Linked DNA regions of Homo sapiens. The main gene of each other region encodes a partner of the protein of the gene in region 2 in a complex. Each region holds a gene or a part of one and is shown on either strand. Other genes may lie near its edges.

Region 1 (3,749 bases), on a different chromosome or scaffold from region 2:
CATTTATATCGATAGAGAGAGAAGTCCCGTTTGCTGGTCCATGTGAATAGATAGGTGGATATCTATACAAGGTAACAGCACCTTTTGGAAAAACCCAAAGGAACTTTCCCAATTCAAATCCTTCAACCACGATGGCTACAGGTGCCCCTGAAAATGCTGCCTAGCTTATCCTCATCTTAAAACTACCATATTTCTCTTTTTTATTTTGAGAACTTTTTTCCCCATTTGTCCCCTGCCTTACAAAGAGGAAAACTGAGCTGCCCCTCTTCTAAAATCACTTTGGGGGGTAACGCCTCAGATATCAAGTAAAGTTGCTTCTGTCATCACTAAATATTATCTCCATCTTCAAAGTAATAAAACGTCAGAAGAATGTTCCCCTAAGAGAAGTAAGCCTAAAACTATAATATTCAATGTCTTCTATAAACCTCCCTATATGGCCAAAAAAATTTCTTTTTGGAGGCTGGGGGAAATGTAAGCATGGAGAACGGACTGCAAGGACCTGGGAGTTAGTGTGTGGTAATATGCACTTCAAGGCTGAAAGAGCTGCAATGTACAATGCCAGGACATTCCTGCCCTGCACTCTGAGGGATGCTGCACACGTCTAGGTCCTCTCAAAGCTATTCACACAGTGAGTGTTACTAGTATTGGTTAAAACAGCATTTAGGCTTGGAAGCAAAGCCTCTACAGAGTCCTTTTTAGCAGAAGGTGGAAAGAACACTCCGGAATAGAGAACTACATTTTCTGATTGCTGTCAGATCGCTTTCTAGAGATCACAGATGCCAAGAGCAGGGATTAGATTGGTTTGGAGCACAGTGCTGGTGAAGGCTGGCATGCAGGGGTACAATACCTAGGGTGGGTGCACTGGCACTTCGTTTACGATCTTCAGATATCCCAACAACGCACACAATCACACGCAGCCCAATGGAGAGAACACAGAGATGACAAAATGAAATGCAGATCAGACTCCTCCTCGCCAAATACACACCGTGGAGGAGAGGCATGCGGCACACAGTGCTTCTGATGTTACACACAGGCTCAACGTCAATGTTAATTTATCCACTATCACAACAGATGGGAAACTCCATGATGAAGTCAAAGGGAATCATGATTTTAGGTCTTTCCGCTAAGTTTATACCACAGGAGAGAGCAGGGTGAGAGTCTATATATCTTCACAACACTAAATTAAATCCACGGAGGCATTTTTTGCTAAATTCCCCTAAGTCATTCACCTTCGTTTCTGAGAAAGAGAAATGAATCAATGAATGAAAGAGTAAGGGAAGGGAAGACACTGCTCTTTTCCTCCTTGTGGAAGAATTAGGGCAAAGGCATTTTGGTCATACGTACCTAAGTTTGGTGCACTTGCTGTTCTCTTGTTACTTTTGATTTTAAAAAAGCCCCGGCCAAAGGAAGATCTGACTTTTCGAGTGCCGAAGGGGTTGTCATCCATGGAGGTGTCCTGCCCTGGGGGCCTGGGAGGAAGGGTCCCAAATGGCCTGCTTTCTGCCGGAGCTCTGTCCTGAGAGGCAAATAAGAATAGTGAAACAGCTCTCAGGTGCAGCATCCTCAGCACATGCCAGGCTAACAGCAAATACTCACTCACGCCACATCCATGAGTTTATTCAAAAGAATAACTGAACTAATACATTGATCACCAATGTCAAATGCCTTATCAGAAGTTGAAAAAAAATCAATTCTGAAAGCTACTTAAGAAACAACAACAAAAGCAACAAGGAAAACATGTTCATCACTAATCTAGAATCGATATGTCTAGGGCTTTAAATATTTAGGATACAAAAATTCTTAAATTTTGTTTGCCTCATTCCTCAAAAGACATGGAGACATTACATAACCAGAATAATAGCAGCAGATTTCTGACTTTTCTAACAATTATGTCACGGATTTAGCTATAATACAGTTCATATTCTTATATTATAACTTTGTCAATAGAAGCCTAATATAATATTAATTATTCTACAAAGCAGGCATTAGTTCAAACTTCTATACCAGCAGTATAAGGAGATTCTATTCCAGTTATTTTAAATATTCTCCTCAAAGAATAAGAAAATGAAGGCACAGTGAGCAACTTTATTTTGAGCTTTTTGGTTCTTTGAATGGGCAATTAGAGCCAGCTGTAACACAGTATATTATTTTAGTATTTATACAAAGATGCTTTGCCTAGATCAATGTCATGAAGTGTTTCCCCTATGTTTTCATCTAGCAGTTTTATAGTTTCTGGTCTTATATGTAAGTTCTTAATCCATCTTGAGTTGATTTTTGTTGATTTGGTGACAGGTGAAGTCCAATTTCATTCTTCTACATATGGATATCTAATTTTCCCAGCACCATTTATTGAAGTGGGTGTCCTTTATACAAAGATACTTTTGTCTTCTTGTTTTCATTTCTCTATTCTTTCCCTCTGCTTCTTTTTTTTGCAGAAGTAGAAATAATTCTTGCCCTCTGCTTCTTTTTTTACAGAAGCAGAGAAAAGGGTGAGGGGATATAGGTATTTTAGGTGGTTATTTTACTCTATATATCTACAGCTCATAGAAACCAAAAGTTTACAGATGGCACAATTTAGTGATATTATCATCCATGGCTCAACAATGACGTCAAAATCATTTAACCATTTATTGAACTGAAAAGACAACAAGGATTTTAATTATAGCTGTCACCACTGGCTGCTTTGTCAATTCTATCCACATATGACTCAGGCACTAAGAGCCAACAGTCAAGAGACTGGATCTGGAGGTAGCCTATCAGGCTGTAATCTTCACAAGGTTAATGACAGAAAATCAGAGGACAGAACAGGCACAGTGGCTCATGCCTGTAATCCCAGTACTTTGAAAGGCAGAGGTGGGAGGATTACTTGAGCTCAGGAGTTCAAGATCAGCCTAGGCAACATGACAAGATCTCATCTGTACTTAAAAAATAAAAAATAAAAAAAAAAACAAACGAAAAAAAAAAACAGCCGAGTATGGTGGTGCACGCCTGTAATCCCAGCTACTTGAAAGGCTGAAGTGGGAAAATCACCTGAGCCCAGGAAATCGAGGCTACAGTGAGTTATAATTGCACCACTGCACTCCAGCCTGGACGACAAAGTGATACCATTTCAAAAAAAAAAAAAAAAAAAAATCAGGGGAAAGAAGAATTGAGCACATGTTGACGACATCTTTAAACATACCAAAATGTTTGCTTTAGATGGGCACCGGGTGTATAATCTAATGGTAATCTAAGAAGGGCTTTTGGGGAGGTCTAAGGAAGCTCAGTTATGGTCATTAGGAACATTAAGTAGCATGACTGAGAGACTATGGTTTTGTTTTTTAATAACTTACTGAAGTGAAATTCATAACAAAATTAACAATTTTAAAGTGCACAATTCAGTGGCATTTAGTATGTTACGATGTTGTGCAACCACCACCTCTACCTGCTTCCAAAACATTTCCATCATTCGAAAGCAAAACCCCTTACCCTTAAACAGCTTCTCCCCATTTTTCCCACCTCTTACCACTGGTAACCACCGATCTGCATTCTATTTCTATAGATTTATCTGTTCTGGATGTTTCACATAAACGGAATCATATAATATGTGAACTTTGTGTCTGGCTTCATTTAGCATAATGTTCTAGAGGTTCTGAAAGTTTTTATCTACTGGAGACATTTAAGCAATTTACATGTAATGGAAGTAGAAATATTTTTGCATTGTAATTTGGACAAAAAGTTACCTCTGAAGTCTTCTGAATAGTTTCCTT
Region 2 (3,749 bases):
TTTGTGTTTGCAAGTATGCACTGAAATACTGAATTGAAGAGCTATTCATGTTCTTTAGCTAATTTTATGGTCTCAGGAGCAGCCTTGTCTCCAAAACTCACTGTATAATATGTTTATAATGTCTATATATATTTAATTGCAATAAAATATACTAAGATAAAACTTGCCAGCTTAAGCAGTTCAGTGAATGCTAGATTCATGTAGTGGAATGTGCTTGTGTCCCCTCCCCACCCCCGCTGTGTTCAGCCTCTGCTGTTACTCCCCAGCCAGGCGCAGCTTTGGATGTGTCCACAGTCACCCTGCTGCTGTCTTCCACTCTCTCTGACCACACTCAGTTCTGAGCCCCACATATGTTTCTGTTGTCTTCAGCAGTGCCCTGGGATAATTAGAAACCAATTCAGTGAAATTGTGGCTAATTCTAAGAAACAGTTTCTGAAGTCATTTTAGGAGATTTGTTCCTACTCTGGAGGGCTCCTGCAGCAAGAATTCTCCAGCTCTCCCTGCTGACTAGCCAGCCGCAGTCCAGGCTGTGCCTCCATTAAACCCACACCTCCAGTTGCCTTCACTAGGACCTCCACTGCTCCTAGGTTTAAAGAGAGTGCCCAGGGTTTAAATGTTAGTGCCCTAACATTTAAAGAGGTTTAAATGTCACCAAACTCGTTTCTCCCTGAATGACGCCCCTGGTCTTATGGCGGCAGCCAGGGCCCTCTCAGCTTGTCACTCCAGCCCTGCAGCTACCGTCTTACAGAGCCAGGGCACAGCTGATCAGGACCCCCAGTATTCTCAGCCTGCCACACTCAAAGTTGAGCCTCCATTCCAGAATGGAGGCTGGACAGAGGTAGGAAGGCCCACTTTGCCCATGACTCCACTAGCCAGGATGCAGCATCAGCACCACGTAGCTGGGGTGGGGTGGAACTGGGGGAGAGGGCACTACATTATCAGCTGCAGCAGTCTGGAACAGAGTCGCTGCCTCACTGACCTGGAAAGGGGAGGCAGGGAGCAGTCTTGGTTCAAATACAACAGACTCTGGCCTTTCTTACTGAATTTTCAGTTGTTTGCTGTGAACCCTTAGAACGATCTCCAGAGTCTCAGAACAGTTGTTTTCTTACAATGTTCACCTGTTTTCCTTGGGAGCAAGCAGGTCAGTGGAGCTTCTTGTGCTGTCATGCTAGAAGTTGATTACCCACAGTAGGGATTCTTGCAGAAGAAATATTACTTTAGAAGAGAGGCTGGGCACGGTGGCTCAAGCCTGTGGTCTCAGCTACTTGGGAGGGTCACTTGAGCTCTGGAGGTCAAAACTGCAGTGAGCCATGGTCACACCATTGCACTCTAGCCTGGGTGACACAATGAGACCCTGTCTCAGAAAGAAAAAGGAAGAAAAGGAGGCTAGGACAGGGGTGGTGGCCTTCTAGGCCATCTTTCCTCTCTCTCCAGCAACTCTAGATCACATGTCTGTGAGTCATTTAAAATGTCTTCATTCAGTTCATGTCAGGATCCTGTTCAGGAAAATGTTTTGGACTTCTCTGGCTGCTGAGAAGGTGGACTTGGATTCCCCTTCTTTCCCTGCTGTCCTTGTCCCAGGGTGCAGGGATAGAGGGAAGTCAGATGGTCTGTCAGTGTTGTGATTTGTTAGGGAATCTGTGTGGTCCATTGATGCCCTCTTTCTCTGGAGGATCACTGAGATCCCTTCCCCATAACTTGTAATGAGGTTGCCTTTGTGTGAAGACTGTGGAGCCTTGATGAAAGGCTTTCTTTAGGGGGTCTTTCTTATTTATTTAATTTTGTTTTGTGATTTTCTAGGAGTTCGCAGCACTTACTAAAGAACTCAATGTATGCAGGGAACAGCTCCTTGAAAGGGAAGAAGAAATTGCTGAACTGAAAGCAGAAAGGAATAACACCAGGGTGAGTGTGACCTTTCTGTTCACTGCCTGCCCCTGGAGCCACTGTCAGGAGGAGGGGCGGTGTGTCAAAACGAAAGGACGACCCACTCTGTCTGGCCTGAAATACTTTTCATACCTTTTCCCACTGAGCAGACTGTGATTAGTCAGCATGATCACACATTAATGGCTTGAAATTTGTGATGAGAATTTATGATATTTTAATACAATTGAGAGGAATTTGTTTTTCTGCGGAATTGAAGGGACTTCATTTTAGTATGAGACTGTAAAGGAGTTATTTGCCCCAGATTCAATCATGAAATTAAAAATGCTGTTTAACAAGTCTTTATTTTGGCCTTTTATTTCAGCTGCTGTTAGAGCATTTGGAATGCCTTGTCTCCAGGCATGAGCGGTCTCTTAGGATGACCGTGGTGAAGAGACAAGCGCAGTCTCCAGCAGGCGTGTCCAGCGAAGTGGAAGTGCTGAAAGCACTGAAGTCCTTATTTGAACACCACAAAGCTCTGGATGAAAAGGTGCCATCAGCCACATAAGTCTTGGTTTGTGCACATGCTGTGTATTAGGCCAGCTTCACAAGTGTTGGTGTAACTTTTGTTTTTTGAAGCTTCTTGAATTCTTGGAAATAACTTCTCTAAGAAGACAGGGTTTTGTAGGTTTAAAAAGTACTAATTGGCTTAAATGTCTTAAAATTACTAATGTATATTGATTTGCTGTTACAAATTGGGTAGTATTAGGTTGTTGCAAAAGTAATTGTGGGCAAAACCTGCAATTACTTTTGCAACAACCTGATATTTCGGGGGAAGATTTATTTTTCTGAAACTTAATTTAGAGCCATTAACAAGTTTTCTTGACAGTAAGATCAATGACAGACATTAATGGTATTTTATTATGTTATATTACACTAATATATACATTAAGTGTATATATTACACTTAACTATATATTAAGAATAAAATAAACAGTATACACACACACACACAAACTCAACCCCTTTTATTTTCAGGTGAGAGAGCGATTACGAGTAGCACTTGAAAGATGTAGTTTGTTAGAAGAGGAATTAGGTGCCACACACAAAGAGGTAAGCTTGAGACTTCATCATGAGTTGAATTGGGGGGGGGTTATTTTTATCCTTTAATTATTAAAAGCAGCATAAGGCCAGACGTGGTGGCTCACACCTGTCATCCCAGCACTTTGGGAGACCGAGGCGGGCGGATCACCTGAGGTCAGGAGTTCCAAGACCAGCCTGACCAACATGGTGAAACCCCATTTCTACTAAAAATACAAAAATTAGCCAGGAGTTGTGGCATGTTCCTTTAGTCCCAGCTGCTCGGGAGGCTGAGACATGAGAATTGCTTGAGCCCAGGAGGTGGAGGTTGCAATGAGCTGAGATTGCACCATTGCACTCCAGCCTGGGTGACAGAGCAAGACTCTGTCTCCAAAAAAAAAAAAAAAAAGTAAAAGAAGTATAAGGACTGTAGTTGTACATATCACATGTTACTTATCTTCCCAATTGAGGACCAGCCTATCTGAGTCATTTTAAGGACTACAAAATGATGGTTACCTAAGGACTCGTCTGGCCAGTGGATAATAAATTCCATCTTCAATGATCTGGTTATTTTCGGATTGGGTAGCATTGCCATATGCTTTCTCTTTTATACTATGTTAAGCAGTTTTTAGTTGTGTTTTTCCAAAAGGAGTTTTGCTATCTTTACTTATTTCTCTTATGTAAGGTATTTTACACTCATATTCAATTTTTTGCTTTCAGCTAATGATTCTTAAAGAACAGAATAATCAGAAAAAAACTCTAACAGATGGAGTGCTGGACATAAACCATGAACAAGAAAATACACCAAG

The links. The genes of interacting proteins can lie anywhere in the genome.
Region 1: PPFIA1 (region 2) and PPFIBP1 share a complex: the UniProt entries of both Homo sapiens proteins name them as parts of the cortical microtubule stabilization complex.

What each region holds. Positions count from the first base shown.
Region 1 is NC_000012.12:27,674,195-27,677,943, reverse strand, and holds part of PPFIBP1 (liprin-beta-1), read right to left. Parts: coding exon 3,723-3,749; intron 1,517-3,722; coding exon 1,345-1,516; intron 1,238-1,344; coding exon of another isoform or gene 1,170-1,237; exon of another isoform or gene 881-1,169; coding exon 848-880; intron 1-847. UniProt on the Homo sapiens protein: May regulate the disassembly of focal adhesions. Did not bind receptor-like tyrosine phosphatases type 2A.
Region 2 is NC_000011.10:70,322,602-70,326,350, forward strand, and holds part of PPFIA1 (liprin-alpha-1), read left to right. Parts: intron 1-1,800; coding exon 1,801-1,902; intron 1,903-2,206; exon of another isoform or gene 2,207-2,245; coding exon 2,246-2,410; exon of another isoform or gene 2,411-2,526; intron 2,527-2,898; coding exon 2,899-2,973; intron 2,974-3,660; coding exon 3,661-3,749. UniProt on the Homo sapiens protein: May regulate the disassembly of focal adhesions. May localize receptor-like tyrosine phosphatases type 2A at specific sites on the plasma membrane, possibly regulating their interaction with the extracellular environment and their association with substrates.